Linked DNA regions of Homo sapiens. The protein of the gene in region 2 purifies or fractionates together with the protein of the main gene of each other region. This does not show direct contact. Each region holds a gene or a part of one and is shown on either strand. Other genes may lie near its edges.

What was found.
Region 1: the proteins of TBC1D8 (region 2) and ENPP1 purify together in Homo sapiens (affinity purification with mass spectrometry; one large-scale study listed by BioGRID and IntAct). This does not show direct contact.

Annotation. Positions count from the first base shown.
Region 1 is NC_000006.12:131,884,198-131,888,230, reverse strand, and holds part of ENPP1 (ectonucleotide pyrophosphatase/phosphodiesterase family member 1), read right to left. Parts: intron 3,301-4,033; coding exon 3,168-3,300; intron 1,670-3,167; coding exon 1,507-1,669; intron 1-1,506. UniProt on the Homo sapiens protein: Nucleotide pyrophosphatase that generates diphosphate (PPi) and functions in bone mineralization and soft tissue calcification by regulating pyrophosphate levels.
Region 2 is NC_000002.12:101,144,883-101,148,382, forward strand, and holds part of TBC1D8 (TBC1 domain family member 8), read right to left. Parts: intron 1-3,500. UniProt on the Homo sapiens protein: May act as a GTPase-activating protein for Rab family protein(s).

The DNA.
Region 1 (4,033 bases), on a different chromosome or scaffold from region 2:
TGTAGGAAGTACTCTGAAAGAAATATATTTTGGCTCACCATAAGAGAAAACTTAAAAATTGCTAAAATGGGCCGGGCACAGTGGCTCATGACTGTAACCCCCGCACTTTGGGAGGCTAAGGCCAGCAGATCACCTGAGGTCAGGAGGTAGAGAACAGCCTGGCCAACACGGCGAAACCCCATCTCCACTAAAAATACAAAAATTAGCTGGGCATGGGTGGCAGGTGCCTGTAATCCCAGCTATTCGGGAGGCTGAGGCAGGAGAATCGCTTGAGCCCGGGAAGCGGAGGTTGCAGGGAGCCGAGATCACGCCACTGCCTTCCAGCCTGGGTGACAGAGCAAGACTCCAAAAAAAAAAAAAAAAAAAGGCCAGGCACGGTGGCTCACGCCTGTAATCCCAGCATTTTGGAAGGACAAGGCGGGTGGATCACAAGGTCAGGAGATTGAGACCATCCTGGCTAACACGGTGAAACCCCATCTCTACTAAAAAAAAAAAAAAAAAAAAATTAGCCGGGTGTGGTGGCGGGCGCCTGTAGTCCCAGCTACTCGGGAGGCTGAGGCAGGAGAATGGCGTGAGCCCAGAAGGCGGAGCTTGCAGTGAGCCGAGATCATGCCACTGCACTCCAGCCTGGAAGCCAAAGTGAGACTCTGTCTCAAAAAAAAAAAAAAAAATTAGCTGGGTGTGGTGGCGGGCGCCTGTAGTCCCAGCTACTCGGGAGGCTGAGGCAGGAGAATGGTGTGAACCCAGAAGGCGGAGCTTGCGGTGAGCCGAGATCATGCCACTGCACTCCAGCCTGGGAGCCAAAGTGAGACTCTGTCTCAAAAAAAAAAAAAAAATTGCTAAAATGTTATGCAGTCTTGATGTCCCAATCTACAATGTAGATTTTTAAAATTCTGAGCAAATAAGATAATATAAAACAATTATTCCCAAACACACTGGGATGACAATACGATAAGAAAGGAAAAGATTTTTTATAATTAAGTGATACACAGAAAATTTGAAATGTTGTCTAACAACTTTAATTTATAACAGTGCTGACACTTTGAAATTATACATCCAGTTTTAAAAAAAGAGAAAATCCATACCTCAGATAAACCTAGACTTTAGTGGTTAAGCCATACAAAGTTTGATTCTGATCTGATTTTTAGTATCTTTACCAGACAAAGGGGCCAGGCAGGGTGGCTCACACCTGCAATCTCAGCACTTTGGGAGGCCAAGACAGGAGGATCATAAGAGGCCAGGAGTTCAAGACCAGCCTGGGCAACATAGAAAGACCCTATCTCTAAAAAAAAAAAAAAAAAAAAGAAAAAAGTAAAAGCAGACAAGGGTAGTCTTCCCCAAAGATATGTCATCTTAAAAGATCAAATTTAAAAGCATCCTATAATTTCGAAGTCCATGTGTACTCAGTTGTGCTTTCTCTCACTGTAATGTCAGATGGGTGACATAAACAAATATGCATATGTCTAGATTTTCAACATGCAAAGTAAATATACAAAAGCTACTTACCACACAGCTCTCGCTGTTATCAGTCCTGTGAGGCAAAATGAAAGCTAAGGTGTCTAGGTTTTCACAGTGCAAAGGCGTCTGAGATGTATCTTTACAGCTTGTTAGCACAATAAAGAAGTGAGTTGGAATCAAAATTTCTTGGTTACGGATGACTCTTCTTTTTCTGTAAAACATGCCAATATTCATTTTAAGAAAGAAATAACTATCTTCCTTTTGATGAATATTTCAGTAGAGCATGCTTTTAATACATATAAAAATCAAATTCAAACAAATAATTAAATATAAGAAGCTAGTAATCACAATACCTCAACATACTCTGCCAGATTGAGAGCAATAATTAGAAGACAGGCAGATAAACACACTCCAAATAATTTTTATTTTCTGTAGAAGTTTATTGACTTTTAGAATTCTTTTAGTTCTACCTAAAGACATTGAAATTGAAACACTAAAGAAAAGAAAATGTCATTTTTGAACACCTATGACCAAGAGTGTAAACCATTATTGATAGTCTTAACTTCTAGGCGATTATAGACAAATAGTGGGCAGAGAAAGAACTGGTTAGGAATTTTCTATTCCAGCCCCTTCAGAGAGGACATGTTGTCATGAATTGTTTGTTCTAACTGGATTTTCTTCCTTAATAACTTAATTTTTTAAACTGAAGTATATTATCAAAGATGTCCCAAACATCTTTACCTCATAGTCATTCTCCTATTTTAAGGCTGTGTTTGTTTTTTCAACATCTTTCAAAATTTAAGGCAGTGGAATCATTGTTTTCAAATATGACCTTATGTAGAAACATAATCTATAAAACAGATTTAAACAGAGGGCTCTGGGTGAAGCCGTGGGTAGGAAGCATATGCAGTTCTCTTCTGTATCCTCTCCAGTGCTACAGCTTCTAAGGCAGCTTTATGCCTCAAGGGAAAGTAAAAAACTGTAACTTTGCAAATTGATGTGCTTTCTGATGTATTTTGTAAGTCACATATATCTAAGTCAGCCTGGGAGAGTAGGAAAGTTCTGAGAGGGGCTGAATCTCAGTGGAATCTCAGTCTTTTTCCTACGGACTTAACAGCAAAATTGCTTCCCAAACTGCTGTAATTATTGTTTCAATAAAGATCAACCAGTTTCCAAGATGTTCTTTCCCTCTCTTTTTTAAAAAAGCACCACTGATGGTTTCCTTCAGACGGTTGCTTTTTATCATGCCCCTCCAGCCACAGTTGGGTAAAAGCCATAACATTCACCCAAGGCCACCAGACTCCAAGCACTGCAGCTTTATAACCCTATTCATTCCTAGACTCAGGATATCTGTAGCCACACCATAGAGTTCTTCATCTTCTGACTCACAATATATTAAGATCATATCTTAACAATCAGCCACACAGAGATCTTAAATGAGTTCAGCATTTAAACTGAGTGCAAAAATTATTCAACTGAACTGAATGGGTGAGAAACACTACTTTTTTACCTAAAAATATTTTACTGAACATTGAGCAAAACATCAAAATTAATCAGATATTTCAAGAGGCTTCCTGTGTAGTCAGAAGTGTCATACACATAAACATACGACACTGGATAAAAAAGGTTCTGTTGACTCAACTGGATGGTAATCCCATTTCTACTGGATGGTAATTCCTATTTTTAAGAGTAATGAAATATGTTCTTACTGCCTCAGATTCTCTAAGGAATCACAACGTCCATCATAATCAAAGTCAAACACAGGACCACTGACGACATTGACACCATTTCTTTCTTCAGCATACTTTCGCAGTAGGGTGTCATGAAAGTAGCGCCATATAACTGAAACAAGATAGAAGCCAGTGTAGTTTCAAAAGAACAAGGGACCATGTTGACGTGTGAAATAAATTAACACCATGATTCAAAATTAGCATTTATAGTAAATAAAGATAAAGTCAAGTTTGGCTTCAGTCTTCGTTTTGTTTTGTTTTTTGTTTAGAGACAGAGTCGTGCTATATCACCCAGGCTGGAGTGCAGTGGCACAATCATAGCTCACTGCAGCCTCAAACTCCTGGGGTCAAGAGATGCTCCTGCCTCAGTCTCCAGAATAGCTAGGACTACAGGTGCACATCACCATGCCCAGCTAATTAAAATTTTTTGTAGAGACTAGACACCAGATCTCACTGTTTCCCAGGCTGATCTTGAACTCCTGGCCTCAAGCAGTCCTTCTGAGTTGGACTCCCCAAAGGGCTGGGACTGCAAGCATGAGCCACCACACCCAGCCTTGGCTCTAATCTTAGTGTGAGGCCAAAAATTCATTGTTCAGCTTTGGCCTTTGAAAGGACTCACAGACAAACGTTGAACCCAACTCTCTTTGAGACATCCCTGAACAAGTACATCATGTTGAAATTGTGATCATATGTCATCATTAAGCATAGCAACATCGCAAACACAAACAAGGCATATTATTCCGATTTCCTATTAATATCTGAATATTAACTTTGAAATATTCACAAGTATTCTAGATATAAATTAGACTAAAAACTCCTTATATGCTTATATTTTGATATTCTAT
Region 2 (3,500 bases):
AGCCAAGATCACGCCACTGCACTCCAGCCTGGGCAACAGAGCGAGACTCTGTCTCCAAAAATAAAAATAAAAATAAATAAATTCCTCCTTTATCCAGTGCCACCTAAAATGTGGAGTCAAGATCATAAAATCCTTCTGCCTTCACTTCTAGTAAATGAATTCTTTACAAGCTACCAGCCTCTCAATAATTGTCAGCTCTTCCTAAGGAGTTCCAATTAGGTGGAAAAGGCCACCCTCCAGTATCCCACCACCTGCACAATTTGTACCTTATATTATCTCCTGGAGTGACACAGTCCGTGCCTTGTTTGATTATCTCATTACAAATACATTGCCCTTATTATGCTCTCACTAAATGCAACTCTTGGAAACCTCAAGGCTTTTATTAATAGATTATCAGCCCCTAAAGATATATCAGTTATTTAACTTAATTTTTCAGATGTATGATCCTAAAATCAAACTACTTCCTTTACTTGTGGTTTCTTCCCTATTATGCTTTTAAGAAAAAATACCAAAGCATGTAAGACTCTGGAGCCAACATCTGGGACTTCTATAGAATGCAACAGGCTGCCCTGTTAAGTCAAAGACTTTCACTGTTGGAGGAGACAAAATTCACCAACAAACTCAGCTATATGAGCAGGACTCCAGCCAACCTCAGACAGACTAGCCAAGAAATGCAACATCCATGCTGGACTTCATCAGTTTCCAACCTTCTGATAAGAGTCCTTCTGAGCAAGCCTTGTAACCCCACATGAATCCTTAGCCTGTCAGTTTCACCTCCCCCAGTCATTAGGACACTCTTCCAAAGGCAGTAGGTGATTCACTGGAGGCACAGCATGAGCACTCACACTCAACATTTGAAACAAGGTGAAGCTCCCTTTACTCACTACGATTTAATGTGGTGAGAGGAGCCGTGTGCCCAAATCCTATAAAAACACCTTTCTCCTGAGCAATTCTTAACCCAAGCTGTTGTTTAAATATTTCATCTTTTAATTACACATATTAAATACTGCACTAATAGATAAGTGAATGTTTCTTATGTCCTTCACTACAATGCAAATGTTTTTACACCTTTATTCTCAGAAGCCATTATTCAGTTTTTTTAAATTGTACTTTGCTTTTCTTCTGTCAAACCTACCAGGTGCCAAGCACAATTAAGCCCTTGATGTATACTGTTTATTAATTCTAAGCCTTATTTTAATCATAACCATTATGCATTGCTGATGGGAATGAAAAATGGTACCGCTGCTGTAGAAAACAGTCTCTAACCCTCCGAAGTAAGATTCATTATTGTCCCTTTCTTAAGGCTGAGTTATAACTAAGGCTCAAAGAAACTGGATAAACTAACTCAAAGCCTCTCAGTCCAGATTCTTAATGAACAGACTTACTTACCTTGACTCCAAAGGTTGTATTTTACACTATTTTTCACTATACCATACTTCCTCCCTTCACCCTAACTGTTTAGGTAATCAGCCCATCACTACTACAAATGCAATGACAGGAACAGGGACTTAAGGTAACCATGTTGCAAAGCAGAAAACATCAATTCAAATTACAACTTTTAAATTGTCAGCCAATTTAAGAGAAGAATTGCAAGATTATACAGGAATACACGCAATAAAACCCTGAAAAATCAAATCCTTCAGAGGACACAGCTGGGTGGTGATATTTGTTATTTAGAGTAATGTTTATTCCACTCACTATTTTTTAATTATCACACTGTAATTGTACATATTTATGGGATACAATTTGATGTTTCAATACTCATATATGTTACATAATTATCCAATTCGGGTAGTTAGCATATCCATTACCTCATGCAATTATCATTTCTTTGTGGTGAGAACATTCAAAGGCTTCTCATTCTCATAGCTATTCTGTAATACACGGTACCACCACAGTCACCCTACTGTGCAAGAAAACAGCAGAACTTACTTCTCCTATCTAACTGTAACTCTGTACCTGTTGACCAACCTCTCCCTATCCATCTTCTCCCATCCTGGTAACCACTGTTCTACTCTCTGCTTTTATAATACCAACTTTTTAAGATTACACATATAAGTGGGATCATGCAGTATTTGTCTTTCTGTGCCTGGCTTATTTCACTTAACACGATGTCCTCTTCCAGGTTCATCCATGTTGTTGCAAATGCGCCAGGCACGGTGGCTCACACCTGTAATCCCAGTGCTTTGAGAGGCCGAGGCCGAGGCCGAGGCAGGAGGATGGCTTGAGGTCAAGAGTTCAAGACCATGTTGTCGCAAATGATAGGATTTCATTCTTTCGTATAGTTGAATAGTGTTCTGTTGTATATATCTCACATTTTCCTTATTTATCTCTTGTTGGACACTTAGGTCGATTCCGTATCTTGGCTATTGTAAATAGTGATGCAATAAATACAGGAACGCAGGTATCTCTTCAACATACTGATTTCATTTCCTTCGAATATATACCCAGTAGCGGGACGGCAGGATCATGCAGCAGCTACATTTTCAGTTTTTTGAAGACCCTCCATACTGTCCTCCATAGTGGCAATATTAACTTACAATCCTACCAAGTGTGAGTGTTCCCTTTTCTGCATATCCTCACCAACACGTTTTTCCTTTGTCTTTTCAATAATAGCCATTCTAAGAAAAACATTAATTAAATAAACAAGTAATAGCCATTCTAACTGGAGTGCGGTATTTCCTTGTGGTTTTGATGTGCCTTTCCCTGATGATTAGTGATGCTGGGCATGTTTGATGTACCTGTTAGCCATCTGTATGTCTTCTTCTGAAAAATGCCTATTAATGTCTTTTGCTCATTTTTCAATCCAGTTATTAGATTTTTTTGCTCTTGAGCTATTTAAGTTCCTTATTATCCCACTCACTTGAAGTGCTTCAGAGACCCTGGGAGAGAGGGCAGCAATGTTGTGTGTTCTTTCTCTGCACAGTCTCTTTCCCACATGCTAACATCTCCGGGCTCTTTGTTCTCCCAGAGCTGGCTGAACTTGTTACAAGAGGTTGGAGACTGTATCAAAGTGAACACTGTATAACTTTATTTCCTTTCCAGAGTAGCAATATCACTTCCGCAAGCAGAAGTTTGGAAACATCTCATAATCCTGAATTCTGCCATGCTATGCTCTAACCTGAGGAAAAGATGGGCACCTCCCTAGTAGTGCTCAGAGCCCAGGAGCTAACAATGGCAGCCACATCTGTGCCCGCCCTTTCTGGCCACCAGAGAAGTTAGTGTGATGATCCATCCCCCTCAAAAGAGGGAGCTACAAAAAAAGACTGGAGGAAACAATTGTGTTTCCCACCCACACCCCTCCAGCTTTCCATAATGGTCAGACTGCCAGGTAAACAGGAAGCTGAGAAGAGACAGGGGTTGTTCCTGTTCCAGGCAATCAGTCCGAAATGCTGGGCCTCTACTCCCACCCAACTTTTAAGAAAAAAGTGGGATCCATCATCCATGCATACAGTCACCCATCCATTCATCCTACAAATGTTTCCTGAACAAATATGCTG